2 linked regions of the Homo sapiens genome follow. The protein of the gene in region 2 purifies or fractionates together with the protein of the main gene of each other region. This does not show direct contact. Each region holds a gene or a part of one and is shown on either strand. Other genes may lie near its edges.

Region 1 (4,315 bases), on a different chromosome or scaffold from region 2:
GACCAGCCTGGCCAAAATGGTGAAACCCCATCTCTACTAAAAATACAAAAATGAGGTGGGCCTGGTGGCACATGCCTGTAATCTCAGCTACTTGGGAGGCTGAGGCAGAAGAATCGCTTGAATCCAGGATGCGGAGGTTGCAGTGAGCTGAGATCGCACCTCTGCACTGCAGCCTGGGGGACAGAGGGAGACTCTGTCTCAAAAAAACAAGTAAACAAAAATTAGTTGGATTTCTGGGTAGAAGATTACTGTTATTTTGCTTAGTAAGCACTTTGTTAAGTATTTAACTTGACATTTGTTAATATGATTGTGTTCAAAATATCAAATTAAGAAACCTTTAACATTATTGGACAGTTAGAATAATTTTACTATTTAAGGTAATAATGCAAATTTTAAATCTTACAGAATATATCACTGATGTCCATTCGAATGACCTGTCTACACCACAGATCCTTCCATCAAATGAAGGTGTTAATCCACGTTTATCGGCAAGCCCTCCTAAATCAGGCAATTTGTGGCCAGGATTGGCACCACCACACAAAAAAGGTAAAACGTTTCTCTTATTCAGTCTCTTTTGCTTTGGGTCTTAGTTTAAAATGATGGTTTTGGTACTTGATAATTTAAAGTGTTAATTATGAAATATGATTTGATCTTTTAAAATTGATAGCATAATTTTACATAGACATGATTAAAAATTTTGTGTGTTGGTACTCTGCTTTTAAAATTTTACATACAGTTGAATTCACTTTTTCTTGTATAGAGCTTTATGAATTTTAACACTTGCAGCATAGATTCTTGTTACCACCACCACAAACAGAATACAGAACAGCTCTAACACCCCAAAGAATTCCTGCATAGTACTACTTTGTAATCAGATCATTTCTCTATTCCTATGTTCTGGCACCCTTGATCCTCTTTTCTTATTGTTTTGCCTTTTCCTAGAATGTCATATAAATGAAATCATATAGTATGTAGTCTTTTGATTTTTTTAAATCTTTTCATATGTAGTCTTTTGAAACAGGTTTGCCTCTCAGGATAATGCATTTGAAATTCAGATATGTTACTGCGTGTCTGAATAGTTTGTTCCTTTTACTACCAAGTAATGTTTCTTTTTTTTTGTTTTGTTTTGAGATGGAGTCTCACTGTCGCCCAGGCTGGAGTACAGTGGTGCAATCTTGGCCCACTGCAACCTCTGCCTGCCAGGTTCAAGCAGTTCTCCTGCCTCAGCCTCCCGAGTAGCTGGGACTACAGGTGCACGCCACCATGCCTGGCTAATTTTTTGTATTTTTAGTAGAGATGGGCCATGCTGGTCTCGAACTCCTGACCTTGTGATCTCCCCACCTCTGCCTCCCAAAGTGTTAGAATTACAGGCATGAGCCACCATGCCCGGCCTAATATCTCATTTTTTATGGGTATACCACTGTTTATTTACCTACTGGTGGACTTTTGAATTGTTTCCAATTTTTGGCAATTATGAATAATGTTGCTCTAAAATTTATGTATAGGTTTTTGTAAGAACATTTTTTCATTTGTCTAGGACAAATACCTAGAAGTGGGGTTACTGGGTTTTATGTTTGTTTAATGCTTATAGTTGTATTAAACTGCCAGACTTTTTACCAGAGTGTCTACCATTTAGTATTCCTTCCAGGTATATATGGGAGTTCCAGTATTATGTTTTCTTAGAAGAAAACATAGGAGAAAGTCTTCATGGCCTTGGGTTAGACAAAGAGTTCTTAAAGACATTAAAAGCATGATCCATTAAAGAAAAAAATTAAAGATTTTTGTTGACAAAGGACATTCAGAGAATGGAAAGATAAGGTTGGATGTATTTATAAATCATATAGCTAGCAAAGGACATGTATCCAGAAATATATAAAGAACTCTTAAAAACTTTAAATAATAGAATCTTTTCTTCAAATAAAGCCTTACCTGGAGACAAAAACAAATAAGTGAAAACAGAATTGCTCTCAAGTCAGGATAGGGAGACCGAACCCCTTCTATTTCATCTTTAGCTTGATGATGACTTTCATCATCTTTCCCTCACTTTCTAACCTCTTCCCCTCTTCTTTTGACTTGTAAAACATTTAAGTAAACATCCCAGTGATGAAGCATTTGTGGTTTTGTGCTAATTTAGAATTTTGTTCATTTTCTCATATGTACATTTATGGTGGCCAAGGATCATTTATACTTTAAAAAAAAAAACAGGCTGGGTGCGGTGGCTCACGCCTGTAATCTCAGTACTTTGGGAGGCTGAAGTGGGTGGATCATGAGGTCAGGAGATCGAGACTATCCTGGCTAACATGGTGAAACCCTGTCTCTACTAAAAATACAAAAAAATAGCTGGGCGTGGTGGTGGGCGCCTGTAGTCCCAGCTACTTGGGAGGCTAAGGTAGGAGAATGGCATGAACCCGGGAGGCAGAACTTGGCAGTGAGCCGAGATCGCACCACTGCACTCCAGTGTGGGCAACAGTGCGAGACTCCACCTCAAAACAAAAAAACAAAAAAAAACAACAAATATCTTAAGCCTTGTCTGCTTAGTTTCTTTTATTTTTTTAATACTTATGCTCTTTTGAAGAGTATTTTGAAAATTTTCAACACAGTAATTTTTACAGTTTAAGGATTCTAGAGATCATATACAAGTAAGATTGACAAGACAAAAAAAGATTCCAGAGAAAAATGTTAAAGGAGCTGCTTTGATTTTTTTTTAATGTTTTTCAATCCTAGCTCAGTCTGCATCTCCAAAGAGAAAAAAACAGCACAAGAAATACAGAAGTGTTATTTCAGACATATTTGATGGAACAATCATTAGTTCAGTGCAGTGTCTGACTTGTGACAGGGTGAGTATGAGGGTATTAGAATACACAGAAAATTCGTGTCAAATGATTTTTAAAAATGTGACAAGATGATGTGAAAAGTTTAATTCCTTCTCTTTGCTATTGATGAGCATACATGCATTTATTGTGTTTACATCAACACAAATTTGATTCTAGGTGTAGAATTTTTTTTGGAAGTAGCAGCATCCTGTTTAAAGGATGGTGACCCATCATTGGACAGGCACATATTATCCTTCGTCATCTATTTTGGTTACATATAAAGGTGAGAAGTTGCTCAGCAACAAGAATTGGTAACACCTGCATATTCTCCCAGGCTGATGAAATTTGTATACTGGGAATCTGTTGATATTCACAGGTACAAAGCTGTGAATGTATCTCTTACATTTGGTCATATATGGTTTGTAAATATTTTTCCATGTTTAGGATGGGACTCAGATACTAAAGGTAGTATCAAATTCATAGACAATAACAAAGCATACATTAAAATCATCATGAATTTTTTAATAACACTTCTTCAAAGTTTCTTTGAGCTTTTCTTAAGTACAGTTTTACTTTAGTGCAATGATGAATATGAAATAACATCTCAAAAACAAAAAGAAGATTTCAATTATTGTGTTAGAATCTCAAGTCAAATCTAAGAACTTTCAATCGGGTCGTTTTAATGTAGGTTATTTTGGTACTAAATATTTAAGTGGAATTATCAGGCATGTTTTTAGCTATTTAAAATTAGATGCCAGATTTTGTCTCACCCTTTTAAAAAAATATTTTAAAACTACCATCAAAGGTCAATTTTCAAAAATAAATACAATAGTGCTTAAGAGTTTGGACCTCAAGATGCAGTGGCTGGATTTGGGGTGTTTAATGCTGCAGTGTCTGTGATTGTAATGGGGATGCTAATACTACTGCACAGGACTTACGTGAAGATACCTGGTACAGAGCAAGTGTGTTTTGTTTTTTGTTTTTGTTTTTTTTTTTGCTATTATGACTATGAAAGCAGTTCAATTTGCGTGTTTTTTTTTGTTTTTTGTTTTTTTTGCTTATTTAAACATGCTTTGATCTTTAGAGTCTAAAATCTAACCTTGGAAATGTTTTACTGCATTATGTTCATCCCATTTTTAAAACACAAAACAATTTTAGGTGTCTGTAACCCTCGAGACCTTTCAAGATCTGTCCTTGCCAATTCCTGGCAAGGAAGACCTTGCTAAGCTGCATTCATCAAGTCATCCAACTTCTATAGTCAAAGCAGGATCATGTGGCGAAGCATATGCTCCACAAGGGTGGATAGCTTTTTTCATGGAATATGTGAAGAGGTATGTATTTATTTTCTTTGTATTACATGATTGTTAAACCTGCTGTTTCTGCTGTACTGGCAGAACACTTCCTTTTTTTTCTATCAATGATGTTTCAGGTTTGTTGTCTCATGTGTCCCTAGCTGGTTTTGGGGTCCAGTAGTAACCTTGCAAGATTGTCTTGCTGCCTTC
Region 2 (5,130 bases):
ACAAACTAAAGCCTCCTGTGTGTCCTTCCCTGATCCAGTTTGCCTCCCTCCCTCCCTACTTAACCCTTCTCCTCTTTCTCTCCTCCCTCCCCAGATAACGACTACCCTGAATTTGGTGTTTATTATTCTCTTGATGGCTCCATACTTCTACTCCATATTTATGTGTCTATGATCAACTTTGATATTGTCCTACATGCTTTTAAACTTTATATAACCGGTAACATACTGTACCTATCATTCTGCAGCTAGATTTTTTGTTCAGTAGCTTTTTTTTTTTTTTTTTTCTGAGACAGAGACTCACTCTGTCACCCCCACTGGAGGGCAGTGGTGCAATCTCAGCTCACTGCAACCTCCGCCTCCCGAGTTCAAGCGATTCTCCTGCCTCAGCCTCCTGAGTAGCTGGAATTACAGGTGTATGCCACCATGCCCAGCTAATTTTTGTATTTTAGTAGAGACGGGTTATCACCATGTTGGCCAGGCTGGTCTCGAACTCCTGTCCTCAAGCGATCTGTCCACCTAGGCCTCCCAAAGAGCTGGGATTACAGGCGTGAGCTACCACGCCCAGCCTTGTTCAATAGCTTTTGAGATTTAACCTTGTTGGCACAGGTCTTAGTCTGTTTGTGCTGCCACAGCAAAATACCTGAGACTAGGTAATTTATAAAGAACAGATATTTATTTTCTCACAATTCTGAAAGCTGGGAAGTCTAAGATCAAGGCTCTAGCAGGTTCTGTTGTCTGATGACGGCTGCTCTCTGCTTCCAAGATGGTGCCTTATTGCTGCATCCTCCAGAGGGGAGAAACATTGTGTCCTCACATGGTGGAAGGTGGAAGGGCAAAAGGTCTCCTTTATAAGGGTCTTAATCCCATTCATAAAGGAATTCATGAACAAAGAAGCCCCATGATCTAATCACCTCTTAATGGCCATCTTAATACCATCACAATGACCATCAAGTTTCAACTCCTGAGTTATGGAGAGGCCACATACAAACCATAGGGCATTCTTTGAAGTTCTAGCTCATTTATTTTAACCTTGGTTTAGTATTCCATTATGTGAATATACCACAAATTTTTTATCCATTCTCCTGTTGATAGATTTTTAGATTATCTCCAGTTTTATGTTCTGACAAACGTTGATGCGACGGCCATTATCATATGTATCTCTCCTGAACAAAAGCTCCTTTAAAGTCAACTTATTAGCTCATACTCTACGAGCAGATTTAATTTTACTGGATAATCCCAAATAGTCTTCCAAATTGGTTGCATTAATACTCCCACCAGCAGTATGTAAGAACTCCTTTTGCTCCACATCTTCATCAACACGTAGTGTTGTCACATTTAAAATTTTTTGACAATCTCATGGGTGTGAAATCTTATCTCGTTGTGGTTTTAATTTGCATTTATCTGATTACTCACGAGACTAAACATGTTTTCATATGTTATTGGCCATTCCTTCACACACTTTGCACACTTCTGCAAGGGCCTATTCACATTCTTTGCACAGTTTTATACTGGCATTATTGTTGATGTGTGGGAGTCCTTATATATTTTGGACTCTAAACTTCAGTGTGTTATATGTGTTGCAAAGATTTTCTCCCAGGCTTTCCATTTTTTTCTTTGTTTATAAAGACTTTGAATATAAAGAAGACTTTATAAAGACTTTTAACATAAATTTTACTGCAGTCAAATGTATTAAGAATCTTTTCATTTGTGCCCATAGCCTTCAATCTTTTTTTTTTTTTTTTTTTTTTTTTTTTGAGACAGAGTCTTGCTCTGTTGCCCAGGCTGGAGGGCAGTGACACGATCTCGGCTCACTGCAAGCTCTGCCTCCTGGGTTCACGCCATTCTCCTGCCTCAGCCTCCCAAGTAGCTGGGACTACAGGCGCCCACTACCACCAAGCCAGGCTAATACTTTGTATTTTTTTTTTAGTAGAGATGGGGTTTCACTGTGTTAGCCAGGGTGGTTTCTATCTCCTGACCTCGTGATCCACCCACCTCGGCCTCCCAAAGTGCTGGGATTACAGGCGTGAGCCACCGCGCCCAGCCAGCCTTCGATCATATTACATCACCTCTCTGTGTCTTCTTGACCCAGTTAAGATTCCCCTTCCCACTCAGGCCTGACAGACCACTCTCTTCCTCCTATGCCTGCAGTGTTTGTCATGTTGACATGTGCCTTTCGCTATGGCCGTGATGACTTGGAAGTGATTGGTCTGACGTTCCGAAAAGATCTGTATGTGCAGACCCTGCAAGTGGTCCCAGCTGAATCCAGCAGCCCTCAGGGGCCCCTCACAGTCCTACAGGAGCGACTACTGCACAAGCTAGGGGACAATGCCTACCCCTTTACCCTGCAGGTACTGACCCCAAGCCCTGGGCAGGCAAGGTCTCCAGGGAAGATTAAGAGAGGAAGCTCAAGAAGGACAACAAGGGAGAGGGTTCCCCATTTCTTTTGTATTTGTTTGTATTCTTTTCTACTTCTTTTCTGATCTCCTTTTTGTCCCCTAGATGGTGACCAACCTGCCCTGTTCTGTGACACTGCAGCCAGGTCCTGAAGATGCAGGAAAGGTGAGGACTGGGTTCTAAGAAAGAGGGATAGGTAGTGCCAGGGAAGAGGAACAGTGGGACAGTCAAGACTGGAGAAATGGACAGCTAAGGAAAGAGGTCAGGCATTTTCTTATAGGCCCATGAGGAAGGGAGGACAGCACTGGAAATGAGCTCTCTTTGCCCTTGTCCCTTTACAGCCCTGTGGGATTGACTTTGAAGTGAAGAGTTTCTGTGCTGAAAACCCAGAGGAGACAGTCTCCAAGAGGTATTCTTTGGTTGTCCCCAAAAATCCCTGCCTCCAGCCTCTGCCAGGAAACAGATCCTGCTCTCATGACAGAAATAGCCCCACTTCTAACCTCCACAGCCTCATCGCCACCAGTGACACCCGGTTCTGAGTCCCCTCTGACTTACCTTCTTTGATCTAGGGCAGGGGTCAGCAAACTTTTCTGTAATGGGCCAAAAAAAGAAATATTTGGCTTTTTGAGCCCTATAGTCTCCGTTGCAACTACTCAACTCTGCCGTTGTAGTGCAATCGCAGCCACAGATAGTATAGAAATGAATGAGTGTGGCTGTGTGTCCAATAGAACTTTACTTATGGACACTGAAATTTGAATTTCATGTAATGTCCACATGTCACAAAATAGCATTGTTCTTTGATTTATTTCAACCATTTACAAATGTAATATAACCATTCTCAGCTTGTGGGCCATAGGAAAACAGGCATCAGGCCAGATTTGGCCAGTGGGCCATAGTTTAATAACCTTTGGTCTACATGCTTACATTAAGGGACTAGAGGAGTTCTCTGAGGGAGGCCTTCCCCTGCTCCCATTCTTAAGCAACAATTGGACTATGGGGGTGGCATGGGAGAGGTCTGTGGGTCTGAAAGGAGGACGCTCTGGCTAATCTCTTGGTCTCTGCTCAGAGACTATGTGCGGCTGGTTGTCCGGAAAGTACAATTTGCACCACCGGAGGCAGGCCCTGGCCCCTCAGCCCAGACCATCCGCCGCTTCCTTCTGTCAGCTCAGCCCCTACAACTCCAGGCCTGGATGGACAGGGAGGTTTGTGACCCCCACTTTTTGCCTCCCACCCCAGAACCCCTCTGATGCCCTTTCTTCACTGATTTCCTACTTGGGCAGGCAGAGATGGGAGCCAGGGTGGCAATAGCGCTAAGGAAGCAGGGGTTCTAGGTCTCCATCTGCGTATTCGTCCTCCAGCCTTGACATGGGTCCCCGCTCCTGCTTTAGGTTCACTACCACGGAGAACCCATCTCTGTCAATGTTTCTATCAACAACTGCACCAACAAGGTCATCAAAAAAATCAAGATTTCAGGTGAGTTTCTTTTCCCATCCCTGTGCACCTGGTCCCAAAGCCACAGGTCTTTTCCCAAAATTCTATCTCACTTACCTGTCTGCATTCATCTAGGCTTTCCCTCTAACATGGGCTTGTCAAAATGCATATCTTGTTTTGTCAATGAGCATGTCTCACTGCATCATGTATAGTGTGCCTATGTATAAGGTCACATCTAAGGACACTGAGCTGGGGTCTCAAGGATGACTGACTGATTATAATCATGTGCTTTTCCTGGCTTGTTCAGTTGACCAGATCACAGATGTTGTCCTGTATTCACTAGACAAGTACACCAAGACTGTGTTCATTCAGGAATTCACGTGAGCTGGTGCTGGGGCTAGGACCAGAGAGCCAAGGGGTGGGGTGGTGGGAAGAGGTCCAGGAGGCAGTTGAGGGGGTAGAGTGGGGGAGAAGAGTGGTGGAAGATTCCAGGGAGGGATTCCCAGGAGAACTAGATGGAGGGGATGCAACTTACCCCCAGGAGTCCCATCACGATGCTGAGCGAGGGCAGGGGCATAAGGATTTCCCACCAGAACTAATTTCTCCCAGTCTTCAGTTAAACATGTTACCTCTCTTGGATACTCCAGTAGGTTCTTGTATAATCTTGTACAAGATACTCTTGGGAGTAAAAGTATGCTTAGTCAGCAAGCCCAGCCTAAATTCTTCTCTTGTTCTTCTTTTGTAGGGAGACTGTAGCTGCTAATTCCAGCTTCTCCCAGAGCTTTGCAGTAACCCCAATCCTGGCTGCCAGCTGCCAGAAACGGGGCCTGGCACTGGATGGCAAACTTAAGCATGAAGATACCAACCTGGCCTCTAGCACAATGTAAGCTCAAATATAACTCTCAGCCTCCATTTCCTACCCCTCAACCATTCCACATGCTACATTTACAGCTCTGAGGTTTCATGTTCAGTAAAGCCTACCTGTTTTTTAAAGTGTCTCTAGGGCAGTGTTCAGAGACTCCTCCAGGCCTAAAGGCCTGCAGCAAGCTCAATAATGCCTGTGGGACCAACGGCAGGCTTAGGTCAGCGGCAGAAAAAAAGGAAAACATGGAGAGGAAAACAATCCTTATGTTGTATAAGATTTCACAGTTCACAAAGGTCCGACATATGTACTATGCTATCTTTGTGAGAATCCCACTAAAGTAGCCTGGACAGGTGTTCTTATTCCCTTTTACACTTAAGGACCCTGAGGCTCAGAGAGAAGAAGGAACTCACTTAAAGTGGCATAGCTGATAAGTGGTAGAT

Evidence for each region.
Region 1: the proteins of ARR3 (region 2) and USP33 purify together in Homo sapiens (affinity purification with western blotting, with the first as the bait; one study listed by BioGRID). This does not show direct contact.

Annotation. Positions count from the first base shown.
Region 1 is NC_000001.11:77,721,853-77,726,167, reverse strand, and holds part of USP33 (ubiquitin carboxyl-terminal hydrolase 33), read left to right. Parts: intron 1-405; coding exon 406-546; intron 547-2,724; coding exon 2,725-2,837; intron 2,838-3,971; coding exon 3,972-4,144; intron 4,145-4,242; coding exon 4,243-4,315. UniProt on the Homo sapiens protein: Deubiquitinating enzyme involved in various processes such as centrosome duplication, cellular migration and beta-2 adrenergic receptor/ADRB2 recycling.
Region 2 is NC_000023.11:70,273,934-70,279,063, forward strand, and holds part of ARR3 (arrestin-C), read left to right. Parts: intron 1-2,148; coding exon 2,149-2,348; intron 2,349-2,499; coding exon 2,500-2,559; intron 2,560-2,735; coding exon 2,736-2,803; intron 2,804-3,460; coding exon 3,461-3,596; intron 3,597-3,782; coding exon 3,783-3,867; intron 3,868-4,132; coding exon 4,133-4,205; intron 4,206-4,570; coding exon 4,571-4,708; intron 4,709-5,130. UniProt on the Homo sapiens protein: May play a role in an as yet undefined retina-specific signal transduction. Could bind to photoactivated-phosphorylated red/green opsins.